Linked DNA regions of Homo sapiens. The protein of the gene in region 4 purifies or fractionates together with the protein of the main gene of each other region. This does not show direct contact. Each region holds a gene or a part of one and is shown on either strand. Other genes may lie near its edges.

Region 1 (4,400 bases), on a different chromosome or scaffold from region 4:
AGAAAAAGCAGGAATTGATTCTCCCTTACAGCTTCCCTACCAACACCTTGATTTTAGCCCTGTAAGACCATTTGCATAGTAATACATGTATTATTTTAAGCCACCGAGTTCATGATAATTTGTCACAGCAGCAAGAGAGAACTCATACGCCTTAGAGACACAGTGTCATCGAAATGCCTAAGTCTCTGGACATAGCGTGTGCCCACTCTGCTTTTATATGTGTTAAGGGGGCTGTCAGCAAACCAAGATCTAGGGAACAAGAGAAAGATCTGTGACATGACATCCAGCAGATAAAGTCCAAGGCAGGAGACTCCGCCCTGCCCCAAATCCTCCCTCCTCCACAGAGGTAACAATGTGCCACCACTGATGGTCCACTGTGATGGCTGCCTGGTAACGCCAAGAACCCCTAAAAAGAAATAAGATTAGTCATTGTCTCAAGTTACCTGTTCCACTGACAGATGAAAACAATCAATGGCAGAATCCGTTTACTTGGCATTTTTCAAAATTAAAGAAAAAAAGAGCCATAAAGGGCCTCAGATTGTGAGAATAGCTTTTAATTTAAAACAATTGAAGCAATAAATCATCCATCTCTCTTTCCATCTCAGGCAAATAATCTCCCAAAACATTTGATACAGTTTAACAACAACTGTGACTAGTGCAAAATAAAATAAATACAAACTCTTTCAGGAGCCAACATCAAAACCTGCTGGACAGGTGGGCACAGGAACAGACTCAGCCTCTGCCAAGGCTGAGACAAGCGGCACATCAAGAGTGGCAGGATTTGTGCAGTGTTTCAACACACCCAGCTTTGAACAGACTCAACAATACCTGGGGAGGGGAAACCACAAGAGGATTTTGCCTACAATGAAACAAATATGCCCAACACCCTCAAGTGGCTAATATCCTTGGTACCTAGAAGATGCTAGAAGAGCAAAGGTAGCAGCTCCCAGGCAAAGCTGAAGACAGGCAGTTTGGGGCTCATTTGCTTTTGTCTTTTAATTGGGATCATACATATATATATTGGTTTTTCGGCAGAAAAAAAAAATCTGCTTTCTGGGAGATGTTCTGTGCCTCACAGTGCTCCTGACTCCAGCAAAAATATTTGTGTTGTTTCTGTCTATTTAGATACTTTGCAGAATTGCGTTTCCTATTTACGGATTTCACTGCCTACCCCACACCATGTAAGTCTAGAGTGGGGCTGTCCAATAGAAGTATAACGTTATCCACATGTCTAATTTGAAGTTCTTTAGGGGCCACATTTTTAAAAAAATAAAAATGGGTGAAAAGAATTTTAATTTCAATTATATAAATATATTAAATTGTTAATATTTTACTTAGTACATCCAAAATAGTGTCATTTCAGCATGTTATCAATATGAAATATTGGTGAAATATTTTAAATTCCTTTTTGGTACCAAGCCTTCAAAATCTGGTGTGTATTGTATGTGTACAACACAGTCTCGATTTGAACAAGCCAAACTTTGAGTAGTCATCGCCACATATGGCTGTTGACTGCCACATTGAATAGCACAGGTCTACCGAGTCTTATGCAAACTCTTTTAGAGTGATTTATGGAGTGGAAAATCTCTGTAACACTGTGCAGGTGATCTCAGACACCAACTCAAGAGTACAGAACCTTGTTCTATAGCGTAGGATTTCTTTTATCTAAAGGACATTATCACACTTTATCTAATCCCATCCCCTGGTCCTGCCCCTGCCCCCTGCCATCTCCCCACAGAAGGCATGTACTGATGTGATTTAGCAGCAGTGATGCCTACAAGATGACAAGGACGGCCTTTCTGTGGTAGACAATTTTGTCAGCACTTATTTGGGGATCACAGCTCTAGCTAAATTAGAATTTTGTTTCCCATCCTCTTCCAGAATTTCAAAATATTCTATAAAGGTGACAGATGTAGTTGAAGGCAGTTCTGAGGCTTTTCTAGGAGGACACTTTAAATGGATTTTTTGTTTTGTTTTTGAGGGGGATGGAGCCAAAGTACCTCATGGACTAGAAAGTTGTTTTTTTCAAGAGTAGAAAAAAAGTGGGGCTGGACGCGGTAGCTCATGCGTGTAATCCCAGCACTTTGGGAGGCTGAGGCAGGTTGAGGTCAAGAGTTCAAGACCAGCCTGGCCAACATGGCAAAACCCTGTCTCTACTAAAAATACAAAAATTAGCTGGGCGTAGTGGCGTGCGCCAGTAATCCCAGCTACTTGGGAAGCTGAGGCAGGAGAATCACTTGAACCCGGGAGGAGGCTGCAGTGAGCTGAGATTGCACCACTGTACTCCAGCCTTGGCAACACAGCGAGACTCCATCTCAAGAAAAAAAAAAAGTGGGATGATTACCCAAAAAAGTATAGATAAGTGGAGCAGGAATACAAACAGAGGGGTCGTGGGGCCACTAAGAATGACACAGGTCCTCAACTGGGGAGTATAAGCTGTAACAATGCAAAAATATAACATCCAAACCTCTAAGTGATCCCTCACATTTTACGTGTCAGACCCTAGTGGTAACCACAGGAAAATAAAAATAAAATGTTAGGGCAAGAGAGGACTTTGGAGCTAATCTAGTCTAACCCACTTGTTTCAAATGAAAAGGCCCAGAGAGGTACAGTGATTCAGTCCCACCTCACTTAGAGTGGAGTCAGGATACAGACCCAGGTGCTCTCACTATGAATTGCAGGTAAGGCTCTGTTCAGGTAAAGGGAATAAATGACTCAGGGAGCAAGAGGCTCGAGCTATCCCCGCTGGACTTCCTATAGCCCAAAGTAAGCACTGGGAAATGTCAGGCACATTCTCTTGCAGGTAGGAGAAAGCAGCCTGGTCAATTCCAAAATATTGAAGCAACGTTGATGTAAAGTGTCACTAACACATGATTCTTCCAATAGTCTTTTCTGCATACTTTTTTTTTCTTTAAAAGAAAATCCCAATCTGAACCAAACTGGATTTCTGATTAGTTATATGGGCATTTAGATCAATTGGCAAAATAAAAACTTTGATACATTACCTTTTCCAAAGACATATTCATTGGAATTCTACATAAATGGATATCAAAAGATATTTACAGGAAGAAAGTGCTGTCTTTCACACAGACACCCATATACAGGGAGAATTTCACAATTAGACCACCATGCCTCACATAGAGGACTGCTAACAGACTGATAATGAGTTGACAAAATCCACACGTTATTCCACTTTTCAGTCACAAATAATCGTGTCTACACAAGTGTAAAATTAAGCAGTACATTCCAGACTTTTATAGGGGAACCTGCCTTGTATATATTGAGATACACATATAAATATGCTTTTAAGCAAGTAAGAAACCCATTATTTACTCCAGTTTTTCCCAACTCTCAATCTGAAGTAAAGAATAGCACATATACAAAACTTTGCCTTGTAGAAATAGCCCTTTGTGTTGTGGGGCAGAAGAAAAGGCAGCCATAGCACAATTTTTTTACAACATGTCTAGGCATCAAAAGGGCTAGTTAATGAAATCAAACAATTTATAGCCTATAGTCTTAAATATTGATTTTACATCACTGATTTTTAAAAGTTTTATTACAAAATTTTTATTTTATTCAAAATACACATGCTATCTTTGTCCACATTTCAATCCAAACCACCCAGTCACCCCCAATTCCAAAAAACAGGCCTTTGTTTTATAACATCGCTGAAAACAAGCCATTTTTGACGTGGGTTTGGAGTCATTATTCTATGACACTCACTCTGCCCTAAGGGGACTGGATTTTGTAAGGCTGCTTACTGTGGGGATGTCCACGGGAGTCAGTGACTCTCATAACAGAGTGGGACTGCTTTAGGAAATCCAAGTTAACATTAGGAGGTGACACCAGTGGGCACACTTTGGTAGAAAAGTACTGCACCGTGAGCTCCCTCCTTCTGCCAATCTCATTTGTTCCCAAATTGAGGAAAACAGAGGAGAAAAGGCAGGGAGCACCATCTACTACAACCCACCATGGCATACCACATTCTACTCATTGAAGGTTCACTGTAACCAATCTCACTGTATCCTCAAAGCATGATTGAAAGAGAGGGCAGGTGTCATCATACCATTGTTCAGATGAGGACAGTGAGGCACAGGACGGATGAAGGACTTGCCCAAGGTCCACAGTCAGCTAGGAGCAGCACCCAGGTCTCCAGGCCATGGGCCTTAGACACCATGTCTCTCGGTCACATGGCACCAAAGGATCACCTATGAGACAGGGACCCCCATCACACCCAGAATCCTGATTGTTCACAACTCACTACATCCTAACCCAATGTCTGTGCTTTGTTTCACCTGGTTGGTTCTGTTTATTTTCCTACAGTTTCTAAAAAGATCCTTTCAACCAAACAAATACATGTTAAACAGACAGCAATAAATTCTTTTTCGTTTGACCAAATA
Region 2 (4,400 bases), on a different chromosome or scaffold from region 4:
CTCAAAAGATTCATGAAGAGATTGTCTTCTCTGATGTCACCTTCAAAGAGTATGAATTCTATACAGACAGACGTTTACGGATAATTTCCTAAATTTTTCCCCCATCCCACATGGCAGCCAAAATTACCCTTTAAAAGTTAAACTCAGAATCATATCATTACCTCCTTCAAAACTCCTAATAGTGGCTTATGATCTCCAGAATAAAAGTCAAAATTGTTATAACAATCCACAGGCCAGGCCTAGTGGCTCACACCTGTAATCCCAGCACTTTGGGAGGCCAAGGGAGCGGGGGGGGGTGTGGATCACTGGAGGTCAGGAGTTCGAGATCAGCCTGATCAATATGGTGAAACCCCGTCTCTACTAAAAATACAAAAAATTAGCTGGGCATGGTGGCAGGGGCCTATAATCCCAGCTATTCGGGAGGCTAAGGCAGGAGAATTGTTTGAACCCAGGAGGCGGAGGTTGCAGTGAGCTGAGATCACGCCATTGCATTCCAGCCTGGACAACAAGAATGAAACTCCAACTAAAAAAAAAAAAAAATCCACAGAATCCTATACCACTTGTCCTGTGCACCCACTTCCCAATTTCACCTCCAACTCTCCCACCTTCCTTCCTATTGTACCTTGACAACTTGGCCTTCTTGCTATATATCTCCTTTAGGTCTTTTGCTCAATGTCATCACCTTCTCAATGTGGCTTTCCCTGATGATTCCATTTTAAATTGCAATGCCCCAAATAGGACCCTTGCTCTTCTTATCCCCCTTCCCCTTCTGTGCTTTTTCTCCATTGCACTTACCCCATCTGACATACTATATATTTTACCTAATATTTTTCATGATTTTGGACTTAGATTATATCTTTGTCCTTCTAGACAAAAAAGTCTTACTACTCTTAGTTTAACCTCAAATAGTAGCTCATCCGACCTTTATTTATTCTTACCAGGAATAGTGAATATATCCAACCACCAAACAGCCTTAACCTTAGACAAGCCACAAAACACAATCAGTCATTTCACAGATCTTCATTTGTAGAAAGGGGTTAATTATTATATCTATTTTACTTGCCTAATCAGTTTACTGTGACAATAAAATTAGATAAGGTAAAAAGTGCTTTTGTTGTAACAACTTTGGCATAGTTACAACTATACCTCGTTATAAAATAAAGCTGCTCCTATGGGGGAAAAAAAAATCACAGTATGTGATACACAATAGGCACTCAATAAATGTTAGTGTCTCACACTGATTTAGTTTTTGTCTCTTTTGTGCACCTACAATCCATTGTAACTATAGGCTGAGTATCCTTAATCCAAAATTCCAAAATCCAAAACACTCCAAAATCCAAAACTTTTTCAATGCCAACACAATGTTCAAAGAAAATGTTCCTTGGACCATTTCAGATTTTGGATTTTCTGATTAGGGATGCCCAACCAGTAAGTATAATGCGAATATTCCAAAATCTGAAACAAATCCAAAATCCGAAACACTTCTGGGCCCAAGCATTTTGAATAAGGGATACTCAACCTGAAGTAACCAATAAGAAACATGCTAAATATGTTTACATTTATTTGGCCCTCTGATTCACATCTGTATTCTCAAATTTAGTGCCTAGAACAAGGCAAGTTCTCAAACATTTGATGAAGAATAAATGAACAATAAGACATCACTATTAACCCATTATCACTAGAACAAGTTGCTTTTTCTTCTACACTGATATGTTAGCCCCTCTCTTTCTGATCACCATTGTGATAATTTTCTCATCAGGCTCACATCTGCAGCATTTAACTCTGAAATGGGGTAAATTAACTGGCTGGCACTGGGACTGAAACCTCAGTGCTCTAGCAATTGGATAACTAAGCAGGCAGGTAACTGCAAAGCAACATTAGCGTTCTGCAATTATACATGCAGTGGGGGGGGAAAGCAACTTAGCAAAAAGAAAATTCTACAACTGCCAGAAGTTCTGAAGTCAATCAGGAAACTGACAAAAAAAAAAAAGTGCATTGGTAATTATCTTAACTCACACTTGAAAATAGGAGGCAGACTAAAGATCTAAAGGTCCAATGACACACAGTTCTCTATTCTGTCATTCCACTTGGTTAGTTTTTCAAGCCAGATGTTGATTTTATCACATCACTAATCCCTGCTTCTCACTGCCTACATTATCCTCTTCTCTCAAGCAAAGCCTTTCTTAGTTTGGCCCCAGATCTCTTCAACTGTTCCCTGTGAAATATAAGTCCCAAGAGGGCTTCCCATTCCCATATCCACATCATTGCTTATACCTTACTCTGCCTAAAGGTTCCTCTTCCACCTTTCCATACATCTAACTCCTACTCACCCTCCAAATCTCACACCTCCATAAAACCTGCCTCAACCACTTTTAACTCACACTGACCTTTTCCTCTTTTAAAATCCTCTAGCCAGCAGGGCATGGTGGCTCAGCCTGTATTCCTAGCACTTTGGGAGGCCAAAGCAGGCGGATCACCTGAGGTCAGGAGTTCGAGACCAGTCTAGCCAATATGGTGAAACCCCATCTCTACTAAAAATACAAAAAAAAAAAAAAAAAAATTAGCTGGGTATGCTGTAATCCCAGCTACTCGGGAGGCTGAGGCAGAATTGCCTGAACCTGGGAAGCAGAGGTTGCAGTAAGCCAAGATCACACCACTGCACTCCAGCCTGGGCAACAGAGCAAGACTCCGTCTCAAAAAATAAAAAATAAAATTAAAAAATCCTCTAGCATACTAGTGTGATTTCCTCTTGGCTATAAACTGTCTTTCATTCTTCTCTCTTCAGGAAGACTTCCCTAATCCTGTAAGACCAAGGATGCGTGCCTTTTCCACAGGATACAAACTTTCTAATTCCCTCTGCCGAGAATGTTCAGGCCACAGATCTCACATTACTAGCTCTTAATACTATTTAGGGTTCAGCTCAAATGTTGGCTTCTCAGAGAAGCCTTTCCTGGCTACCCAATCCAAGGTTATTTTCTCATTCATCTTTATCACATGATCCTGTTTTACTATCATCTCATTAATCAGTATCTGAAATTAACTGATTATTATGTTTACTTCTTATTTCTTATATACACTTACCACTCCCACCCACACCAAGAAGTCAACTCAATGAGAAATGTAATTTAGCTTTGTTCACTGCAGAATCTCTAATGCCTACAACGGTTCCTAGCACAAAGAGGTGCTGAATAAATGCTTTATGAATAACTGAATGAATGGCCTCTACTGCCTATACTTTACCTATCAGAGTATTTATCATATTTTATCATATTACTTCTTTATTTGTCTATCTTTCTCAATTGATTGTAGGATCTTTGGAAGCTGGAACCATGTCTGCCTACTCATCACTGCAATCCCGGTGAACAGCACGGTATCCACAGAGTTGTAAAATAATATTAGCAGGCTGTGAATGGAATAGGAAGGAAGGAAGGAAGGAAGGAGGAAGGGACGGAGGGAGGGGGAGAGGGAGGGGAGGGAGGGAGGAGGGCAGGAAAGAAGGGAGGGAGAAAGGAAGGAAGGAAGCAAGGAGGGAGGGAAGGAAGGGAGGGAGGAAGAAAGGGAGGAAGGAAGGGAGGGAGGGAGGCAGGGATAGGGAAAGAATCTGGAATAAAAGAAAGATTAGAGTGCAAATGGATGCTTTCAAAGACATTATTTCGTAAACTTTTGTATCATTTTATGTGTATCCACATATATACACATGTCTGTAAAATGTTTTGTTTTTTACTGTGAGTTACAATCCAAAGTTTTGAAAATACTACACTAAATTCCAAAACAGTTTACAACTCAGTTAGCTACTTTGTCATTTACTGCAATGGTTCTCAATGTTTATTTTTTTAACCATAATCTCCTTGAGGAATGATACTCTCCCATTAGGAAAAATAGCTCAAGATAGCAGATGAAAAAAACTCATCTACTATTCTCTTCTATCTAATAATTTTCATATGGATTGTTCCTAAATCCCTAACAATTTTAAGTTCTTTGAAGATAGAGCTGCCTTCTCCATTACTGCCCTCACAGTGTTTAGCAAGACATTAGCATATTCAGTAGGTACTTCAAAGTCAACTTCCAGTTGCCCTTGTTATTAAAAATAACAAAAACTAGCCAGGCGTGGTGGCACACATCTGTAGTCCCAGCTACTGAGGAGGCTGAGGCAGGAGAATCTCTTGAACCCAGGAGGCAGACACTGCAGTGAGCTGAGATCACACCACTGCACTCCAGCCTGGATGACAGAGCAAGACCCCATCTCAAAGAAAATTAACAAAAACTGTAGGAGTTAGTCTGCTATTCCACTGACATGCCAAAAATAAGGGGGTACAAAAAAAGTCCAGAAAACCAAAAACCCTATGCATATTAAAAAACATTAAAATATAGAAACATAGAAATATAAAAAAAAAAAGAAA
Region 3 (4,520 bases), on a different chromosome or scaffold from region 4:
GCAATGAGTCTTGCCCGAGGGAAGAAGAACTGAGAGGGTCACTGAGCTAATGGGAGCATGAGAATCCTGGGTGTTTGGAAAATAAGATGCCACAAGGCCAGAAATGGCACTGAAAGGAGAGATCCAAAGGTACGAATTCAGATTAATCTCATGTGCTTCCTAACCTTGCCCATGTAGGGTTTCTGCCTGGGCAACATGTACTTCATATTTTTAAATCCAGATTTTTCTATTTATTCCTGTCAAATTCATTTTGTTGGTTTCAACTCCACTTTTGAGCTATCAAGATCATTCTGAATCGTGATTCTTTCTTATAGCCTAGTGGCCATTCCCCCTAGGAGCAAGTCATCCACAAATTTATTAAGTGTACTTTGTGTGTTTTGATCTAAGTAACTGTTTCTTCATCTTGGATTCAGGGAGTCTGTAACTCACCTGAAACTATATGTGACACTTTATGTGTATAAGCATCTTTCAGTGAAGATGAGTTTAGAGTTTTCAGCAGATTCTCAAGGTGTTCCATGACCTCAGAAAAAGGTTACAAGCCACTGATCCAACTATTCATCAGTATTTTGAACAGAACAGTGCTAATAAGGACAGAGCTCTATAAGACTACCAGTAGTGCTTTCTTTCCTGGACTGCACTGATCCATCAAAAATTTTGGGGTGTAATTGTTGACTATTACATGTCAGTCTCTTGCGATTTGCCTCTATAATAAAAATGGAAAGGAAAAATGAATTCCAGCTACTTGGGCATTCTGGTAATTGAGATGTTTACACTGTTGTTTACTTTTTAATCTCTAAATATTAGGTCATTCTTAAGACCTTCATTATTTTGCTTCTTGTGTCCATCAGACACCATATACCATACTATCATATTTAGTATGAATGAAATTATAAATGCATCAGAAATCCCTGACATTTTCTGAAAATGGACGCATCGAAGAAAATGCAGAAATAAACGCTTGCTATCTCTTCTCTCCATGGCTCTAGATAAGTGTAATGTTAATTTCCATTTTAACTCTCCTTAAAACCTACAGAGACTCTACCTCAATCTGTGTATGGTTATGATTTATATAGAAAGGAGTTTGCAGTTTAAGAAAATATTTTACATGAAAATCTGAAAGTGATAAATGAGAAACTCACTACTTTGTTTAAAAAGGATTCACCTTAGAAGGAAGTGAGACACAAAAAGTACATACTGTATCATCCCATATGTATGAGGGCCAAGAAAAGGCAAAGTTAACCTCTAGTGATGGAAAACAATGAGTGATTTCCTAGGTCCAGGGCAATGGTGGGATCGCACAAAGGGGCATGAAGAAACATTTTGGGCTGATGGAAATGTTTTCTCTCTAGATGGGTGTGGTGGTTTCATGGGTATGTGCTCTGTCAAAACTCATCAAATTGTACACTTTAAATGTCTGGTTTATTATACATAAATGCTATGTCAGAAAAAGTTGTTTATAAAAGGACTAGCCTTAGGAGTCACTAAAATGAGACATTATGAGTATTATTTATTGAGCCTTAAAGTAAGATTTAAATATGATTAATTCCACAAGTGAAAAGGTAAGTCTACCTGTAAGTTTCTTCAAGGTGAGATGTGGGTGAAATATGATCATGAGAAAGCTTTTCAACAGGGGAAGAAGAAGTGATATCAGTGCATTTTAGTAATATTAGCATTCATATAAGATTGGTATCGCTTTATTAATGTGGAATGTACAGGCAGTAAAACAGGTTATTTAATTAGTTGAAATTATCTAAAATAGATCTTAAGAGTTCACTTAGAACACTTTTCTGGACTGCCTTTCAAAGTAGATAACATCAGACACAGTGATAACATAATAACTCATTCAAAACTAAATTGTACATCACCTATGATATCAACATTTTGTATTCACTGAAGGAAATTATATTTGAAAGTGTTTGCCTGTACATTATTTGACAAAGTTGTGGGGATTTTTTGTTTTTTGTTTGTTTGTTTTCTGTTTTTGTTTTTGTTTTTCAGATGGAATCTCACTCTGTCACCCAGGTTGGAGTGCAGTGGCACAATCTCGGCTCACTGCAACCTCCACCTCCTGGGTTCAAGCGATTCTCCTGCCTCAGCCTCCCAAGTAGCTGGGATTACAGGCATGCACTACCACGCCCAGCTAATTTTTGTATTTTTAGTAGAGAAGGGGTTTCGCCATGTTGGCCAGGCTGGTCTCGAACTCCTGACCTCAGGTGATCCACCTGCCTCGGCCTCCCAAAGTGCTAGGGTTACAGGCAAGAAATTGTGTTATTTTTTAAATTTGCCATGCTCAGATATTGGATACCAGGGTGATTTCTTGGGAAATCTAATATGAGGAATGAAGCATTAATTATAAGACCTGATTTTAAATGCTACGTACCAATTAATGTATACCCTTTACATATTCTCCTCTATTGTATTTGGAGAAAATTTTCCAATCTATGAGATAATGCTGATGAATTATTTTCTTAGTGGTCAATATAAAAATGAATGAGGAACTATTCCTAGAAATAATATTGAATCTAATTAATGCCACCTTGTCATATGTGCATGTGGAACATAAGAGTAGCTAAAAAGAGGCCGGGCGCAGTGGCTCATGCCTGTAATCCCAGCATTTTGGGAGGCCAAGGTGGGCGGATCATGAGGTCAGGAGATGGAGACCATCCTGGCTAACAACGTGAAACCCCATCTCTACTAAAAATACAAAAAATTAGCCGGGCGTGGTGGCACGTGCCTGTAGTCCCAGCTACTCAGGAGGCTCAGGCAGGAGAATCGCTTGAACCCAGGGAGCGGAGGTTGCAGTGAGCCGAGATCGCACCACTACGATCACAGCCTGCGCGACGGAGCAAGACTCTGTCTAAAATAAAAAAAAAGAGTAGTTAAAAAGAGAGAAATAATATTTTCTGAAATAACAACACAGGTACTGTTGCAAAACTCAACTAAGTTAGAAATCACTTGCCCTGTCATTTGTTATGCTTACGTGTTAGTAAAATTGTTAGTATTCTATATTGGTAATACAGGAACCCTTGCTGATTTAGCTGTTATCTTGGCGTGTTTATTCTGGATTCATAGTAGGAATGAGCACCTTGTTAGAAGAAGGTTGGTCAAAATGGAAGGAGGAGGTGGAGGTTGGTTAGGTTATTTGAATTCCAAATGGCAGTAATGGGTTCCTTAATGATTAATGCTGTACTTAGGCCACCAGCCTATGCCTTAACCACTCCCTTTTCATCTTCACTTAAGGGCTCAACTACAACCCCAGGCTCTGACTCTGGCTCTGGCTCTGGCTCTGGCTCCAATTCCGACTGCGTTTCTGGCTCCAGCTCCAGCTCGATGTCAAGGTCAGGCACTGCCATAGGCTCTGATCCTGGGGCAGGCTCTGGGGCAGGCTCCTGAGTAGGCTTTGGCTCATAGTCTGGTTCTTGGATGGTATCAGGGCCAGTCTCATGAATGGAAGATGGTAGAGTTACTTCTAGTTGGGTAGCGTCTTCTCTTGGCATTGCTTCGCTTTCTCCCCTTGGGTTTATCTTTGTCATTGGCCTGCAAGAAAGAAGGCCCAGAAAAGAACAAGTTAGGGAGATGCTAACTTTGAAATTTCATGTGAAACCATATGTTCTGTAGCTTCAATGACCATAGGTCCCAGACTTCAGGAAATCTGTTATTTCTGATATTCTGACTCATTGTCAGGCCATAGGTCATTTTGGATTCAGAAAGGTTAGGTCTCAACAATATCATGAAAGTTTAAGAAAGAGCAGTGTTTCAAGGTGGGAAAATAATGTCAGAATGAAAGAGTCTAAGAATCTAATAAGGTCTTTAAGGTCCAAATTCATAGCTCTGATGTATCGCTATTTCTCACTCCATCTAGTACAATACTTGGCACCTGGTTGATACCCAATAGATAGTTGTAGAAGCAAGGAGATGAAAAAAAATGAATGAGTGAGATACACACTAGGAAAGAAATAGAGTGATTAAGAGCATGAGCTGTGGGCTGGGCCACATTCTAACTTCTGTGTTCCCTGGGCACTGTCCTTGTGGGTCTCTTGTTCCATAAAAAAATTTAAAATTATATTTCATGACTATGTTGGTATTAAGACAAGTATGTTAGTATTATATATGAAAATGTTTTCTTGGACCTAAAACTGTTGTGATAGCTAAATGAGTTGATGTACATAAAGTGCTTAGAACAGAGCCTGGCACACAGCACTCAATAAATAGCAGCCATCATCATTCTTTTTTAAATTCAATGAGAGTAAACAGAAAGATACCTCTGATATCTTATACTAAAAGGAGTGCTTAGGAATTGATGACTGAAAAAGACATGCCTGAGAAATGTTTGTATTCAAGTAAAGACAACAAAATGAAGGCTTACTCAAGTTCCGCGATGGTCTTAGAATTTCTTTCTTTTGCCTTTGCTTTTGCCTTATTCCTTGCGAAGCACACAACAGAGATGATGATGGCGGCACCTACCAGGCTACCAATCAAGGCCCCAACAATGATTCCAACTTCTGGATCTGAAGGATACA
Region 4 (4,400 bases):
ATCTAGTCCTGAAACCAGATGAGTTAGTTCTTTAAAAAGCAAAATACAAAGCATACTTAGCATACAATTTCCAGGTTCTGAAGTGCAATAAATGTGCAATGTGGGAAATACATCAAATGAGAATGGATTTTTACAATTTGACTTCATAAGAAGAATATATAAAAGTAACATGTCAGAAAAAGCTCTAAGAACATGACCTCGTTGGAAAACAACCGTTTTCCTCAAGTGAGTCAAGTGCCAGATGACGCAGCAGCTGGTGCTTCTCTCCTGTGTGCTTCCACAGGACCGGCCTCTGTGGTTTGCTGTTTCCCACTGTCATTAGCTGAATGCATGTCTCCTTCACTACGTGGTGATACTGCAGGAACAGGCACCCTGTGTGAATTCATTTATGATCCCTTAGCATAGAGCTGTGTCACTATGGGTGGGATGAATACTGTGAGTGTTCAAATAACTGAGAATAAAACACTCTAACCTATGAAAGTCATGAAGTATCTGGTATGCACTGCTGCTGTCAAGGGTTAACCAAATTTTATATAGCCCTTAGTTACCACTTGTTAACCCATTTATGCCTAGTGTTCCATTACTGGAACGCTAAGCTTGTGGGATTTATATTCTACTGCTCAAGGTCATTGCCAAGGCCTGATTTTTCACACAAAAAATTCGCAACCTCTGGCACAAACGGGTTAAAAACTGGAGTATTTTGAAAAACAGTATTCTTCAGCACATATTTAAAACACTATAAAATTACTGCATATAGCATCCACTTTAGTAGTCAAAAAACAAAAACAAAATCAATCAAAATCTTCAATAACAGAAAAGGATAAGGCACAGCGCTACAAGCTTTGGATCTCTTGGTTGTAACATAGTCAAATGGTCGCATGTTAGGATTATATTAACAGGGCACTGCTGTTGCTTTATTACTTTTTAAAAATAGCTTTTTGGAACTGAAAAAATACAACTTAACCACTAAGGAAGTAAAAAAATCACTCATAGTATGGCTCTCTCTCTCTCTCTCTCTCTCTCTCCAGACATATGGATAATGAGGGCATGGGAACCTTCCTCCTCATTCCCTGCCACTTCCTCCTGTTTCCCTATCACAGGAGGAAACTCCTGTTAAGTTTGGTGGATGCACACAGACATCTCAAAACAGGATTTCCTATCTCATCAAGCTAAAGTAATTATAGCTCTAAATTACACTTCAAGAGGAGTTTATAAATTTGATAAATGCATAAACTGTTTTAGCAGTGTCAAGACAGGGCTTAGAAAGTGACCTCAATTCTTACAGTGACAAAGAAAGATGACTCTATCCACTTAAAATTCTATGCTCTGTGACCAGCCAGCAGAGCCTCTCACACAAATGACTTTGGGAGGACCATGATAGGACTGAAAAATGAAAATGGTCGGTGTTGAAGGAGTCAGGTCTCATCGTTTGCAATTCTGTCAAAATCAATGGAAGGCAGGAGATCATGGGCTAAACGCTTCTGCGTTCTTTGGTTGATTCTACCTCGAATTCTTCAACTCAAATTTGGCACAACAATAATATGAAAAATGCTGATACAATTTGTATTCTTTTCAGAAGGGGAGTGTAGAATAGCAGCTGGTTCTACCATCATATACATGACCTCATCTGTAAAACAAATTATAGTATCTTTCTCACAGAACTATTGTATTAAATGAATATATGCAAAACTCTTAGAATACTGCCTAAAACACAGTTAACTACAGAGGTGTAAGTTCATACAACTTCATAATAGAGATAGTATTTTCTTAAAAGAACAGCTAACAGCAGCTGATTACTCAAAAATTATGCAGTGATTTTTATTTTGGGGGCTCAGCTCAATAGCAGGTAGCATAAAATGGTTTGGGGGACAGGTGACCAAAGAACAGAAATCCTTTAAAAAAAAAAAGGTCTTTAAACAATTCTAAACTCAAAAGGTCTTACAACAACTTGATTTCAAACCTAAAACAATCACCACCACCAACAAAAAAAAGGTAAATTTTCACCCTCTTTTTTTTTGGAGAGAGAGTCACCCTACCGCCCAGGCTGGAGTGCAGTGGCGCTATCTCGGCTGACTGCAACCTCTGCCTCCCGGGTTCTAGCAATTCTCCTGCCCCAGCCTCCCTAGTAGCTGGGATTACAGGCGTACATCACGCCCAGCTAATTTTTTGTATCTTTAGTAGAGATGGGGTTTCACCATCTTGGCCAGGCTGGTCTCAAACTCCTGACCTCGTGATCCACCCGCCTTGGCCTCCCAAAGTGCTGGGATTATAGGCGTGAGCCACCACACCCGGCCTTGCCCTAACTCTTAAAACTTTCAATGATGAATAAAGTGGCAGGGAGTCATTTTGAGGCATAAAAAAATTCTGTACAAACTTTTCATTTAACGCTTAACCAAAACAAAATAAGGCCAGGGTGGAAAATATCTTATATGGCATTATTAAGTTCAGAGATTTCTACATACTAAAGATAAGCCTGTCATGGAAATTATGAAACTCTCAACAGATGCCATAAAACAGTGAAATTATCTGATATCATACACAACACCTGATATTGCACATCATGGAAAGCTTTATTAACAAAGACCCCAGGGTTTAATCAAATATTGAAAGGAAAACAAATATGCTACCGTTAACACCCACATCCAGGAAAAGCTTATGTAAGAATTATAAGTTTTAAATAGGTGAGACTGCTTATTTTTTAACATAGAAAAATTGCAAATTTGTCAATCTTTAAGAAAGGATATAGTAAAGGCTTACCATGTGACCGTCCCAGTTTACTTAGGAATACAGAAATAGGTAATTAAAATAAATTGTGCAAACATATATTACATCAATCTGCCCAAATTATAAATTCAACGATGCATTAGGACTGTATTCAGTGCAATCAAAACATTATCAGTTACGGCTGCTGCTGCTAATGCTCATGCTCCTAAGAGAAATGTGTTGTAAAACCAGGCAGAACGGGCTGGAGAGAGACTCTCGTGGACTTGGAGGATGAATAAGCATTCCTTAATTAGCCCATCAGGTTAAGTGCAAGCATTAATGGGCCCTTCCTAAAGTCTAGCTTGACATCTTTCTCCAAACATGGCCAAGAAGAAAGTTCCATTAGCAATATTAATACAAGCTTAGTTGATCATTTTCATTCAATTAACTTCTTTCAATTAAATAGATAGCTTGACAAAAGCAGTGATAAAAGACCCAAAGGGACAGCTGATGACTCGAACTGAACATTAGTGTGCGAGAGGTCGCTGGTATTAAACGGACTGTAAATCTAGCATTCAATTTGGAAAATGCATTTCTTCTGCTCTCACTCCTTTAATGAGCAATTTTAGCTGACTAGATGTGTTTGCTGCAGAAATTTCATGGGAAGTCAAGCACCCTTTTCCTTTTCTTTTTTTCCATCCCAACAGTTACATTCTCACTGGTGGTGGTTTCCTGCCAACATTCCAGCCACAGTAACTCAAAACTTCACTTTCTGGTTAAGAACGAAGATATGTTAAAATAATTTATATACAACTAGCATTAAAAATTAATGACCTACTTTACGTTGTTAATCAATTTTTGAAAGGTTTGAAAAAACAATAAAATCTAAGAAATATTTAGTGAAAAATAAAAACATTTTAAAAACTGTATTTATATTTCATCGTGTCACAGTTAAGTAGTTAGGGCCACATAGAAAAGATGCATGTAACAAGGTTTAAAAACATGGTTTTAAGTGAGGCAAATGTAAATTAAAATGAAAGTAATTTTAGTTAATTAAATTACCTTAATTAATCAAAAGTACTAAAATTACTTTTCTTAATTAAAAAGGTATATAGGCCAGCTGCAGTGGCTCACGCCTATAATCCCAGCACTATGGGAGGCAGAAGCAGGAGGAATCCATGAGGCCAGGAATTTGAGACCAGCCTGGGTAACACAGTGAGACTCTGTCTCTACAAAAAAACTAATAAATTAGCTGGGTGTGGTGGCATGTGCCAGTAGCCCCAGCTACTCAGGAGGCTGAGGTGAGAGGATTGCTTGATCCCAGGAGTTCAAGGCTGCAGTGGAGTATGATGGTGTCATTGCACTCCAGCCTGGGAGACACATCAAGTCCATGTATCAAAAAAAAAAAAAAAAAAAAAAAAAAAAAAAAAAAAAGTCTTGCAAATTAAAACATGTCTGAAACAAACCTGCATTTTTATTCCTCTGCAACGAGTCAAGACAAAAGTTTGTACATTTTTCAATGTCAGTAAACAAAAAAATACATATACTCTATACCTTAAATAACTGAATCCATCTTTTCTGTTCCATCTGTATGCATTGTTGCATTTCAGAGCTAGTAGTAACTCCAATACTCTGAAATGCTGTAATATATTCTTCTCGAACTTCTGGCTTGGTTTCTGGATAAGCCAACTTGATGA
Region 5 (3,691 bases), about 62 Mb from region 4:
AAAAACGTAAGACTCAGCTGTCTTTTCCAACATTGATAACCCACTGCAAATGGTTTGTTACTTTTCTTATCCCTACAATCATCGTTCGACTACTGTGTTTTTATCAGAACCCACTGGGTTTAGAATGGAAGGACAAAGTAGAGACATAACACTCGATGATTAAAAAATAGAACACAAGTGTGTCTAGTTCCTAAGAAGGAGAGAAAACAAGATAGGTGATCTTTCCCTCATATCTAAGATTCTTCCTCTCATGTAAGTTTCAGAAGAGAGATTGTTTTTTTCTTCAAGACAGTAGATCCTATTTACAGAAAGTTTTCTAAGAAAGTAACAAAGGCGTCATGAGGATGTAATTTCCTCTGTTGCTTTGCCCAGGGTTTAGTGGACAGTGAGAATGAAGGAAAATGAAAAACCCCAGGAGGACAGAGATGGTGAGAGGCAGAGGAGAATGATTCAGTACAATTTCTTTACTACTATTAAAACACACTTGTTCTTACAGCAAGAGGCTGCATTGTATTTGTGTTTTGGCCACAGTTACCCTTTACTTTCTTTTGAAAACATTATTTATTTACAGGCACAATCCCTGATTCTCTTTTTCTTTTTAACTGTTGATAAAAGCAATGAAATGTGTAGAGTTCTTCAGTGTCATTGCTGAAAAGTCAAAGCGGGGTTAGGAAAAAGAGTCTTATTGGTAAGTAAACACAAAGATGAAAGGAGACAGAAGAGCTTTATTTAAGTTCTCTAAATAAAAGTTCAAAGATAAGGAAAAATTACTTTAATTCCACCAATAAAAAAATTACAAACAAGTAGCCATGTATTCTACACTAGATGAACATAAGTGTTTAAGCACAAGCAAGGTGAATAAGAAAAGTTTTCATTTCCCTGGGCGAGGAACATCTTCTCCCTTTGTCCTCAGCATCAGTTTTACTTGCCCCAAGTCAGTGCATCACAAGCTTTGCTGCTAGAATACGCCTTAAGATGCAGGGCAGCAAGCAATCCTCCAATTGTTCCAGGGTGTGATCTTGTTTTACTTTGTTAATTATTACTATTTTAAGATTTCAATAGTTTTGGGGGTACAGGTGGTTTTTGGTTACATGGATACATTCTTTAGTGGTGAATTTTGAGATTTTAGTGCACCCATCACTGGAGCAGTGTACACTGTACCCAATATGTAGTCTTTTATCCCTCACCCCACTCTCAAGCTTCCCCTTGCAAGTCCCCATAGTCCATTATATCACTCTGGATGTCTTTGCATCCTCATTGCTTAGCTCCCACTTATAAGTGAGAACATATGGTATTTCACTTTCCATTCCTGAGTTACTTCACTTAGAATAATGGCCTCCAGCTCCATCCAAGTTGCTGCAAAAGACATCATTTCATTCTGTTTTAGGATGTGTTCTAATACCACTTGCTGCAAGCAAACTATTTTTTGAAAGATCAAGCTTTATGTGAATAATTCATACAAATTCAGCATTCTATTCCATGATATAGATCTTGTTTTAGTACAAAATATCTCCACCAAAATATCTGAGTAAAACTGATACTTAAAAGAGATTATTGTATCCACCTATGACTTTTCTTACACAGCCCTGGGAGTAAGACAATCCCAGTTCAGAAGCACAGTCTCAACTGAGATTAACCAGTTAGGTGATTGCCAGTTAACATTAAATGATAGCCTATTGGAATATCTGACATCATCTCTATTCAACACTCCAGCATCCAAAGTTAAATATGATGGAGAACCACACACATAAAAGAAATCTGCTCACAACTGACAGATTTGTTTGCAATTTACTTCTGCTTTAACCTCTAAAAAATGATGCTAAGAGCAATGAGCTTATCTAAAAGTGATTATAGCAAGAACAAAAAAAAAAGTGAAGCAAAATTGACCTCATAAACCACAAGGCCCAGAGCTTAATCACCTACATTTTTCTTTCTGCAATCCACTAACTAGCAAGCCTGATTAACACACTAATCTTCCCAAGTTTCTCAAACTTTTACCATTTTCAAAAAGTCTCTCTATTTACTTTTCGTAGCCCACTGTCACTAGCAAAGTGCTCCTTATCTCTTAGCTACAATGCTATGAAATGTCAGTCTGCTACATAAAAAGACCGAAGTAATCAACTAGGTCCCCTCACACACTTTCTTTCCCCCATTTTCCTATGCTTCCTTGTCACATGCACTGGAGCCATTGAGTGTGCAATATTTTTCTCAAGGAGTCTGGGAAAGTATTAATACTAACCAAGAAACCATACCAAAAAGACACACTATCTAGAAAAAACCTTAAAAATACCCTAACAAGAGCAGGAGATCCCTCTACTTTACATAACCCCTTCACTCTTTAACTTCATGCTTAAAAGAAAAATCACACTTCATGTCAGAAACACAACTTTGAAAGATAAGCATTAAAAGTGAGTCTGCACCTGTACTCTTGCCCCATCACTTTATATTGCAGTTAGCTGTGTGTATGTCTGGATCCTCTGCTAAATGGTGAGATCCTGGAAGGCAGGAGTCACATGGGACTCATCTTTGCATCTCCAGTCTCTGGCTCAGTGATGTCTGGTTCAAATGTCCATTCTTGACTATTAACTGGACTGATGTTTCTTTCTCATTTCTAATTTGACTCCAAGATCTCCTTGTTTTGACTATGCTCATATGCCTTCATCACTGAAATAAACTTGAGTAGCTTGGTTTGGGGAGTAGGAGTTTGCAAAACTAGTGACAGTAATTACTGCTAAGGGGTAATGGGGGAAAACACCAAGTTTAAGAGGCCAATTGCAAAGCCTGCTATATGGCCATTTGAATGAGAATGTAAACATATTACTGATAAGGCACAGAATTATATTGGTTGGAAGAAAACCTGGGTCCCATTTCAGATGAGATAAGATATAAGAAGTTTTACAAAAATATTTCAGGTACTTAGTAAGAACACTATACATATTAGTTATTACTGTTCTATCAGTACATTCTGAATACATCCTTGTCTTTGAAAATTCCTTAACTTTACTTCTTCTTTATTTCCCCATACCATGATATTCTAGGATTAATGGCAGTGTTTGTAAAGTGTTTTGAAATCCCTGAAGTGTTATAATCAACCCAAGTACCATTTTATTTAGGCAAACTGTGTCTACCCAGCAAGTCCACTTAAATACCTAGGATTGGGAACTGCTGTCTCATAAGGCTTAATAAATAATTCCCTCTGGCTCTAAAAGCAAGTACTTTTTCAATGACAATGGGAGGGAAAGCAAAGGAATTGCTCTATGGCATCTGTTGTGTAATGTTCTTCTAATGGCACATCTCGATAAGTGCATGAGAGTCCTTGGAGAGTTACAGCACACAGTAAAGAGAGAGTGGTAAAAATCCCAGTATTTCTGAAAAGGAAGGCAAGACAAATTAAAGTTAGCAAGGCCCCACAGTTTACATCAATAAAAATCAGCAATGCTGCAACTAACCTCTATACGTAATGGCAGCTTCCTAGGGTCTCTATTGGTGAGGCAAAAATTAAACGCAATATTGAAATGGGAGCAGTGAGGCGGTGGTATACAAGGAAAGGGGAGGGGAAATAACATTCTACAATTCAGAACCCAGGAGATAAGATAAAATATGCAAGTGTGAAGTGCCTGGATGAATCTAAACCAAAATAGCAATTTTAAACACATTATGTGCTTGGTGTGATGCATATATTCAGATATTT
Region 6 (4,400 bases), on a different chromosome or scaffold from region 4:
CAAAGGGACCACTAGCCAACAACAGGACTGGGCTGGGACTCATGCTCATTCCTGGGGAGTTTTCCCCATATGATGCCCAACCAGAGCTGAATGCAGCTCATCCTCTGTCCACTTTTCTCATTGGTTCTTTGAGTTATGGAAGCTCTTAATTTAGCAAGGATGATCACTTTCATCTGTTATGTGTGCCAATCTTTTCTTCCAGTCTGTCATTTTTCTTTTAACTTTGTTTCCAATGTCATTTGTCCTATGGAAACTTTAAATTTAACGTAGTAAAACCTTAAATCCTTTTCTTTACGGCTTTGGGTTTTGCTTGCTGAGGAAAGCCAAAATTATATCAATATTCTCCTCTATTTCTTTATAGCACTTTTTAATCTTTTTTACATTTAGATACTTTATATACCTGGCTTTAAGCTCTGTATATAGTGTGAAATAGGGCTCTAACTCCTACTTCCCAAACAATGCATAGAGACAGGTTTTGAAGCCTCTTCCCCTCCCTCCTTTATCCTATACTAAATTCCATGCAGAACCAATATCTATGTCTGCTTCTGGCCCTAGCAGAGCCCACACATTTGTCTGTCTCTGTCCAGTACTGTGCCACTTTGATTCCTGTGGTTTTTCCACTGTTCTGAGATCTGGGAAGGTGCTCTCCCTACTACTCTTCCCCATCCCCAAACTTGTCTTGGTTATTTTTGAACGTGTTCTAAGTATGCTTTAAGACTAGCTTGCTTAGTTCCACAAAAAAATTCACTGGGACTTTTAACTGTGATAGAAACTGAATTTATAGATTAATTTTAGAAAAAAATGTCTTTTACATCAACTTTTATAAATAAATGCTCTACAGAGATTTGAAAAAGAGTGAGTACACTGTCAGTTACAAAGTTTTGTGCCCCCACATGTATACACACACATACATACTCTAAATTTATTAACTGCACTATTCAATTCTTATCCTTTCTAGTTTTTGTCTATTTGATCTGTGAATTTCTGAGAGGGGTGTTTAAATCGTGCTCTAAAGTGATGGTATTTTTTACTTCTAACGGGTTTTGCTTAAAATATATAAATGTCATGCTGTTTTGTACATAAAGTTTTGGAACTGTTCAGTCGTCTTAGTGGAGAGTATGGAGTTGAACCTCTTATCAATATTAAACATCCTTCTTGCAAACTTTTGCACGTGGAATTCCACACTATTAATATTGTCACTTCTGGTTTTCGTTGCATCTTCTCAAGACAGCTTTGTCCATCTATTTATTTTTCAACCTTTCTGTACCATTTTGTTTTAAGTGTGCAACAGAAAGCACTGTCCCTGGTTTCTATTATCCATTTCTTCCTTTAGTACTAGAATGGCTTTCCCAACCCAGATTTCAGCAGAATCCACTCCCCCTGCTGGAGCCTCATCTCTGCCCTCAAATGTAGCCACGTGATAAAGTTCCTAATGTGCGAAAGAAAAGGGGACTCATTCAACTCCACCCCATTTCCTGAAAAGGGAACTGCTTGCCCTCCACCTTCCCAGGCCTGGGCATGTGCACAGACACACACACACACACTGCACACACACACACACACACACACACACACACACAGCCCACATGGACCAGAACAATGCCCAGGGGACAGCACAGTGACACACACACACACACACACACACACTGCCCACATGGACCAGAACAATGCCCAGGGGACAGCACAGTGACAAGACAAAAGTCATGGCTGGACTATCCTATGAGGCAGTACTGCCCACTACGCCACACGGCCTGCATGCCAGGACTGTTCTCAGAGAGAGAAGGAGGCTTCTCCCTCATCTCAGCCATTGTATTTGCAGGTTTTGTTTTTATTTGGTAGCTTAGCCTATACTCTGACTAATACACAATTTGTTAGCTGACACTGGAGTGTTCTTGTTTTTTTTTTTTGAGACGGTGTCTCGCTCTGTTGCCCAAGCTGGAGTGCACTGGCGTGATCTCGGCTCACTGCAAGCTCCGCCTCCCGGGTTCAGGCGATTCTCCTGTCTTGCCCTCCCAAGTAGCTGGGACTACAGGCACGTGCCACTACACACGCCTGATTTTTTTATTTTTATTTTTAGTAGAGACGGGGTTTCACCATGTTAGCCAGGATGGTCTCGATCTCCTGACCTCGTGATCCACCTGCCTCGGCCTCCCAAAGTGCTGGATTACAGGCATGAGCCACCACGCCCGGCTGGAGTGTTTTATGGTTGCAAAAAAAATCAAAATGAGGGAACAGCCAAACATTTGGGCAGTGGGAAAATGGCGGGCAGTAAGGAAATAGATAAGGATCCCGCAGGCTGGAAAGGTGGCAAACCTTATTGTGCCAGAGCAGAGCATTTGGTAAAAAATAACTACCATTAAATTGAGAGCATGAAAGAAAGCACCAGAAAATCAGCAAAATTCCGAAGATTTTACAAATACAACAGGATGAGACCCTCGACTGGGGTCACTTTCACATGAACTTGATTAGATGCGAACAGCCAGAAGCCTACACATTTCTGAAATCTCACTGCAAACATAGGCAGTGGCAGGAGGCAGGTAAGAAGCCGCCCTCCAAGTTTGCAATTGTTTAGCCCTAAAGCTGCTCACACAAGCAGGAAGTGAGTGGCACAAGCTGTGCAGCCACCAGGGAGGGCGTATTTTCTAATGTCCACTTCAGATATGGCCACAGAGCATTACCACCAAGGCAGAAGCTCCCAGGGGACGAGGCCAGAGCACACAGGAGTCTCTTTCTGAGGGCAGCAACAGGTTCAAACCAAGGAGCTTACTTCATGCCAAGAAGGCGTCTCACCGGTCCCACCCTGCAGGGTTCCACCACTGCTGCAGAGCAGAGCTGCGGGCCCTTCCCCTTCTTCCTTTTCCAAATGGGAGCTCTACTGCTCTCATCATATTCTTCCTCCACTGCTATATGCTGGTTTGGGTAGGAAACTTGGTGGATAGGGAGGAGATAACTTCTCTGTTAGTTTATAGCTTGTGGACTTCAAGAAATTGATGGAGGAGATGAACCAACACTCAGACTTGGGGGCAGTAGCTGCATTCAACTTCATTTCCATAAAAACAACTCTCTCTTTGTGCCCTTATTTCAAGGGTTTTTACACTCTTTAGTCGAATTATGTAACTATTGTAACAAGTGCAACTGGCCTACACAGGTTTGGAAATGACCCTCACTGACTCCTCCTAAGCATACACTTCAACTGGGGGAGGAGAGGAGGGCATCCAGAGAATAGGCACCTAGTGGGACGGAAGCAGCCACGAGTTTTCATTAGCGTGTTTTACAGAGAGATGAAGGGAGCTGGGAATCCAGACAAAGAGCTTCTATTATACATATAACTCCACATTGGAATTGTTTAAAAGTTGCTTTCCTTTTTGTTTTAATTAGCTTCTACTTCCCTATTCTAGAGTCCATTCTATTTGTTCATCTTGGTCCTTTTCTGTCATTGGTTTCATGCAAATGTCTGGTGACCATTAATTCTCCATTCTTATTTATGAATGAAGGATTAGGTTGACTAGTATAGGTCTGGGTTTTGGTTTCTTCCAAAGTAGTAAATTTCTGTTTCTCTAATAGGCCTCTCCCTTGCATGGGAAAGCTAAGTATGCTCTGTGGAAGCACACTGAGTTTTCCAGTGTGTTTTACTCTGGGAAGAGTCCTTTCCTTTAGTTCTCTCTCCTTTTCCATTGTAGAAGTCTGCTCTGTTTCCTATGCCTACACAAAGAATCATCTTCCCTTCGCTTCTGTAGAGAATGGTTCCAGGGTCTTTTACCCAGAGGCAACCATCCCCAGCGGCTCTGCATACCTGGGGAGGGTATAGGGTGTGTCTGGCCCAGCCAACAGGCAGTCCAGTAATGACTACCCTGCTCTCTAACGGTGCTGATTCCAAGCTGGGGGTTTGGAAGGAAAGCTTGTACCTCTACAACAGGTCTCTCCTTCATCTGTTTTGGGTTAGGGATTTGCTCTAATTTGTTTGCTCCACCAATCTGGCCCAAGCTGTTTTTTATGCTTTATACCAGTTCCTCAAAATGTCTGGTCCACTGGTGATATCCTTTCTTCACGTGCAAAGCTATTATTGATGTTCTAGTCTGTTCTATCTCATTCCTTAGAGAATCATTTTAGCAGGATTTTAGGAGGGGGCCTAGCGTTCACATACTAACAAAAAAAAAATTAGTGTTATTCTTTCATCTTAAAACCCACTAACAGTTCCCTGTTACCCAAGGGAGCAAGTGTGGCTCTACAGCACGATGCATGTTCTTTTCTCATCTGGCCATTACTCTGTCCACAGCTTCATCACCCATCAGTCTTCCAGGGCTCCTGACCCTATGAAACATTTCCCCACCAACTGCAATTGTGCCCAGAGGCACAAGTACAACATGTCGTCTCTTCCCTTTAGGTCATGGTGCAATTTC
Region 7 (4,400 bases), on a different chromosome or scaffold from region 4:
CTGATCCTGGCCCTCTTCATGCCTCCTACGTATTACGATGCCTGGAGCTTACGGAAAGCAATGCAGGTACTACTATATGTCATTTATTATGAATATTTTGTCCTATTTCATATGTAAAACCGTACAAATTATGACAGTTCTGAATTTACAGTGGTAATTAAAGCAATTCTTTATTTCACATCATCCATCTGAATATATAGTTTTTAGTTCTACAGAACAAAGAAATATTTGACGAAGATTTAATTACTTGCAGAAATTTCATTTTTCTTTGTATAATCTTCCCTTCATTTCATGTAGGGAGCAGGAACTCAGGAACGTGTATTGATTGAGATTTTGTGCACAAGAACAAATCAGGAAATCCGAGAAATTGTCAGATGTTATCAGTCAGAATTTGGACGAGACCTTGAAAAGGACATTAGGTCAGATACATCAGGACATTTTGAACGTTTACTTGTGTCCATGTGCCAGGTGAGTATAGTATGAATGCTTGTGCGTTGATAGAGGGAACATACTTTAAAAGCCTTTTGCCAGTGAGCATTCTTTATTCCTTTTAATATTTAGCCACCTTGCAATATTGCCATCTTTAAGAGGGACAACACAGAAACCAGTGTACAGATTTCTTTGTAGTTACTATTGAGATTTATTCCTGTAAATCTGGCTTTTGTAAGGAATTAGAGATTTAACCTCTAAGGTTGTATGGAATCAGAAACCAATTCGAGGCTCTGTGGCTGGGATGGGGATGAAACTGTACATTTGAGCTTATCACTATCCTGCCCATTATGCCCCACCATCAAGTGAAGATGTGCAGGACTGCCATAGAGGTGCTACAGGAAGTGAGGACTATGTGAGGAGACCCAGAAATGCAGAAAAATGTTTTAGGGTTCCCAGTAATAACTGTGATTAGCACCTTCTTTATTTTGATTCCCCAGGTGTGCTGGAGAATTGACAGAAAATACTCCAAATAGGGTATTTGGAATGGCATTAGAAACACACTTAGGGCCAGACATTGTGCCTCACACCTGTAATTCCAGCACTTTTGGAGGCCAAGGCAGGAGGATTGCTTGAGGCCAGGAGTTTGAAGCCAGCTTGGGTACCATAGCAAGAAACCATCTCTATAAAAAATATTTTTAAAAATTAGCCGAACATGGTGGTATGTGCCTGTAGTGCCAGCTATTCAGGAAGTTCAGTGGGAGGATCACTTGAGCCCAGGAGATTGAGGCTGCAGTGAACTGTGATCGCACCACTGCATTCCAGCCTGGGCAATAGAGTGAGATCCTGTCCTTAAAAAAAAGAAAAGAAAAAAAGAAAAGAAGCACACTTAGATGATGAAGGTGTATTTGAAAGAGATTATGTAAATGACTAGCATGCTGATTCAATATCAAGAGTTATTGCCTATTGTGCTAGTGCACAAGATTGGACCATCTGGAGGGATCTAAAGGAGAGGAGGGGCTCTTAAGAGCCAAGGGAGGGGCTGGGTGTGGTGGTTCATGTCTGTAATCCCAGTACTTTGGGAGGCTGAGGCGGGTGGATCACCTGAGGTCAGGAGTTTGAGACCAGCCTGACCAACATGGTGAAACTCCATCTCTACTAAATACAAAAAATTAGCCAGGAGTGGTGGCACCTGTAATCCCAGCTACCTGGGAGGCTGAGGCAGCAGAATCGCTTGAACCCGGGAGGCAGAGGTTGCAGTGAGCTGAGATTGTGCCATTGCACTCCAGCCTGGGTAACAAGAGCAAAACTCCATCTAAAAAAAAAAAAAGGGAGGTAGCTGTGGAAAGGATAGTGGATATGGAAATGAGAAAGCAAAGTAAATGGGTTGAAGGAAATTGAATTTACCTAAATCAGAGTAACAGGAGGGCAGTAGGTTAGGATTTAAAAGAAACAAGAAGGAAAACAGACAATGCTAAAAAATGGCTATTAAGATTTTACATGAGGTGCTGAGTCTCTCTTTATGCAGAGTTCAAGGCCCAGCCCTACCTTTTCCAGGGCATGAGTAGAGGAGTAACTTCCTGAGAAAGTGTGTGTGAATCCAAAGGCAATAATCTGGGAAATTTTTTGTGAGTACCTTTTCCTGTGTTATATTCAGTCGCCCATGTAGAATGTGCCTCTACGTATTCCTTGTGCCAGTTGCTCAGAAGACAGTTCTTCAGCTTCAAGGAGGATTTTTCCATCTTATTCCAAAGATGGTCCCTGAGACTCTAAAAGGCAGCCTTTTCTTGTTTGGGTTTGTCTTTCTGTTTTTGAGAGAAACCAACTGCTCATTAAGCTTAAACTCTTCCTTCCTCCTTCCTTTCTTCCTATTCCAGGGAAGAGTGTGGTATACAAATAGGCACAGTCTAACAGAACATGAGTTATTTGTAGCTGCTTCTGTAAAGCTTATGTGTCATTTTTATGCGTGTATTTATGGTAAATACTTACATATTAAGATTATAATTCGATGGCTGAGTGTGGTGGTGTGAGCTTATAGTCCCAGCTACTCTGGAGGCTGAGGTAGGAGGATCACTTGAACCCAGGAGTTTGAGGCTATGATCATGTCTGCAAATAGCCATTGCACCCCAGCCTGGGCAACATAGTGAAATCGTGTCTCTTAAAAAAAAATATTATACTCAGATGAAGAAAAGAAAGTTTATGAAGCCTCCATATTATATCCTCCCTCCCTCCTGCCCTAGAGTTAAATTTCTTGAGGGCAGAGACCCTGTCTCTCCTGTGTCCCTACCGCTTAACACAGTGCCTGACACAAAGAAAGTGCTTAATGTCTCTTAGTCGCATGAATGAATAAAAAGTAGAACTCAGTACAGTGCATATTGATCTTAAATTCCAGCTAAGAGAGCTGTTTCTTCATTTGAGTGGTAGTTAATATCTCCTAGTAGAGATATTTTTGTTTAAACATTTTGGGTTTAATTTAGCTCCCAAAAGCCCTCATTTTTAACATAACCTCATTAAACCGTGATCTTATATTATAAAATCCAGTTGACAGTATAATAAATTACTAGTTATATTTCCATGCATAGAAATGAAGCATATGCATGACAGACATTATGGATTAATCTTTAATAAATTATCTCTTTAGGCCAGGCCCAGTGGCTTACATCTATAATCCCAGCACTTTAGGAGGCTAAGGCAGGAGGATCACTTAAGCCCAGGAGTTAGAGACCAGCACCTGGGCAACATAGTGAGACATGCTGTCTCTACAAAAAATAAAAAAATTAACCAGGCATGGTCGTTTGTGCCTGTAGTCCCAGCTATCTGGGAGGCTGAGGTGGAAGGATCACTTGAGCCTAGGAGGTTGATACTGCACTCCAGCCTGAGTGACAGAGCAAGACCCTATCTCAAAAAAAAAAGAAATAGTCTCTTTAAATCCAAAAGTGAACTAGATTGGAAAAAAAAAATTTAGTAGAACTATTATTTATTTCTTCCAATTCCTGCCTTTCTCTTTTGCAGGGAAATCGTGATGAGAACCAGAGTATAAACCACCAAATGGCTCAGGAAGATGCTCAGCGTCTCTATCAAGCTGGTGAGGGGAGACTAGGGACCGATGAATCTTGCTTTAACATGATCCTTGCCACAAGAAGCTTTCCTCAGCTGAGAGCTACCATGGAGGCTTATTCTAGGGTATGAGCTTTTCTTTTGAAGATTTGGCTTCTGCTGTAAGATACAAAAATATTTAACCCTTTAATTTTGTTTGCAGATGGCTAATCGAGACTTGTTAAGCAGTGTGAGCCGTGAGTTTTCCGGATATGTAGAAAGTGGTTTGAAGACCATCTGTAAGATATTTTTGTGCTTTGCTTTATTTTCTTTTTAAATGAGTGGGAGCTTTGAATAGTTGTTCCCATTAAATGTTGATAATATAGTCCACGTGGAATCTGCTTAGGCAGTAGCTGATCTAATCCTTTGGGGTTTGTTTTTTGTTGTTTGTTTTCTTTATTGGATAAGCCCCCAGAAACAGTCCTGTGTTTTTACATACAATTTCCTATGAATGGTAGTTCTGTGATCAAACAGGGCTGTTTGGGGATTATTTGGCCTTCATCTGTAGGCCTGTCTTGATAACTGTGCCAGAATACCTGATAGTTGTAGCACTTCCTTTAAAGAGAAAGGGAAAGTCCTGAGGAACTCACAGTGTCACCACGAAGCAGTTTGAGTCCTCAAAACAGATATTTCAGGTACTCAGCCCAGTGAGACTCATTTCCTTTTTGAAGTTAACCAGTTTCTGGTGGTCTAATACACAGATGTCTAACAAAGTGAAAGTTTCATTCTCATGGATATTAGGACTAAGGGGAGTATTAGTAACACTTTGGTATTAACAATGGAATGTTGGGCCAGGGGCAGTAGCTCACACTTGTAGTCCCAGCTACTCAGAAGGCTGAGGTGGGAGGATCACCTGAGTCTGGGAGGCTACAGTC

Evidence for each region.
Region 1: the proteins of UBE3C (region 4) and USP13 fractionate together in Homo sapiens (co-fractionation; one large-scale study listed by BioGRID). This does not show direct contact.
Region 2: the proteins of UBE3C (region 4) and RRM1 purify together in Homo sapiens (affinity purification with mass spectrometry, with the first as the bait; one large-scale study listed by BioGRID). This does not show direct contact.
Region 3: the proteins of UBE3C (region 4) and VSIG1 purify together in Homo sapiens (co-immunoprecipitation; one large-scale study listed by IntAct). This does not show direct contact.
Region 5: the proteins of UBE3C (region 4) and ASB4 purify together in Homo sapiens (co-immunoprecipitation; one large-scale study listed by IntAct). This does not show direct contact.
Region 6: the proteins of UBE3C (region 4) and PACC1 purify together in Homo sapiens (co-immunoprecipitation; one large-scale study listed by IntAct). This does not show direct contact.
Region 7: the proteins of UBE3C (region 4) and ANXA7 purify together in Homo sapiens (affinity purification with western blotting; one study listed by BioGRID). This does not show direct contact.

Annotation. Positions count from the first base shown.
Region 1 is NC_000003.12:179,785,540-179,789,939, reverse strand, and holds the end of USP13 (ubiquitin carboxyl-terminal hydrolase 13), read right to left. Parts: 3' UTR 539-4,400; downstream 1-538. UniProt on the Homo sapiens protein: Deubiquitinase that mediates deubiquitination of target proteins such as BECN1, MITF, SKP2 and USP10 and is involved in various processes such as autophagy, endoplasmic reticulum-associated degradation (ERAD), cell cycle progression or DNA damage response.
Region 2 is NC_000011.10:4,097,456-4,101,855, reverse strand, and holds part of RRM1 (ribonucleoside-diphosphate reductase large subunit), read right to left. Parts: intron 1-4,400. UniProt on the Homo sapiens protein: Provides the precursors necessary for DNA synthesis. Catalyzes the biosynthesis of deoxyribonucleotides from the corresponding ribonucleotides.
Region 3 is NC_000023.11:108,076,065-108,080,584, reverse strand, and holds the end of VSIG1 (V-set and immunoglobulin domain-containing protein 1 isoform 2 precursor), read right to left. Parts: intron 4,509-4,520; coding exon 4,367-4,508; intron 3,538-4,366; coding exon 3,204-3,537; 3' UTR 1,401-3,203; downstream 1-1,400.
Region 4 is NC_000007.14:157,207,793-157,212,192, reverse strand, and holds part of UBE3C (ubiquitin-protein ligase E3C), read right to left. Parts: coding exon 4,258-4,400; intron 1-4,257. UniProt on the Homo sapiens protein: E3 ubiquitin-protein ligase that specifically catalyzes 'Lys-29'- and 'Lys-48'-linked polyubiquitin chains.
Region 5 is NC_000007.14:95,537,248-95,540,938, reverse strand, and holds the end of ASB4 (ankyrin repeat and SOCS box protein 4), read right to left. Parts: intron 3,369-3,691; coding exon 3,180-3,368; 3' UTR 706-3,179; downstream 1-705.
Region 6 is NC_000001.11:212,380,150-212,384,549, forward strand, and holds part of PACC1 (proton-activated chloride channel), read right to left. Parts: intron 1-4,400. UniProt on the Homo sapiens protein: Chloride channel gated by pH that facilitates the entry of chloride ions into cells upon exposure to extracellular acidic pH. Involved in acidosis-induced cell death by mediating chloride influx and subsequent cell swelling.
Region 7 is NC_000010.11:73,379,243-73,383,642, reverse strand, and holds part of ANXA7 (annexin A7), read left to right. Parts: coding exon 1-66; intron 67-297; coding exon 298-468; intron 469-3,441; coding exon 3,442-3,612; intron 3,613-3,688; coding exon 3,689-3,764; intron 3,765-4,400. UniProt on the Homo sapiens protein: Calcium/phospholipid-binding protein which promotes membrane fusion and is involved in exocytosis.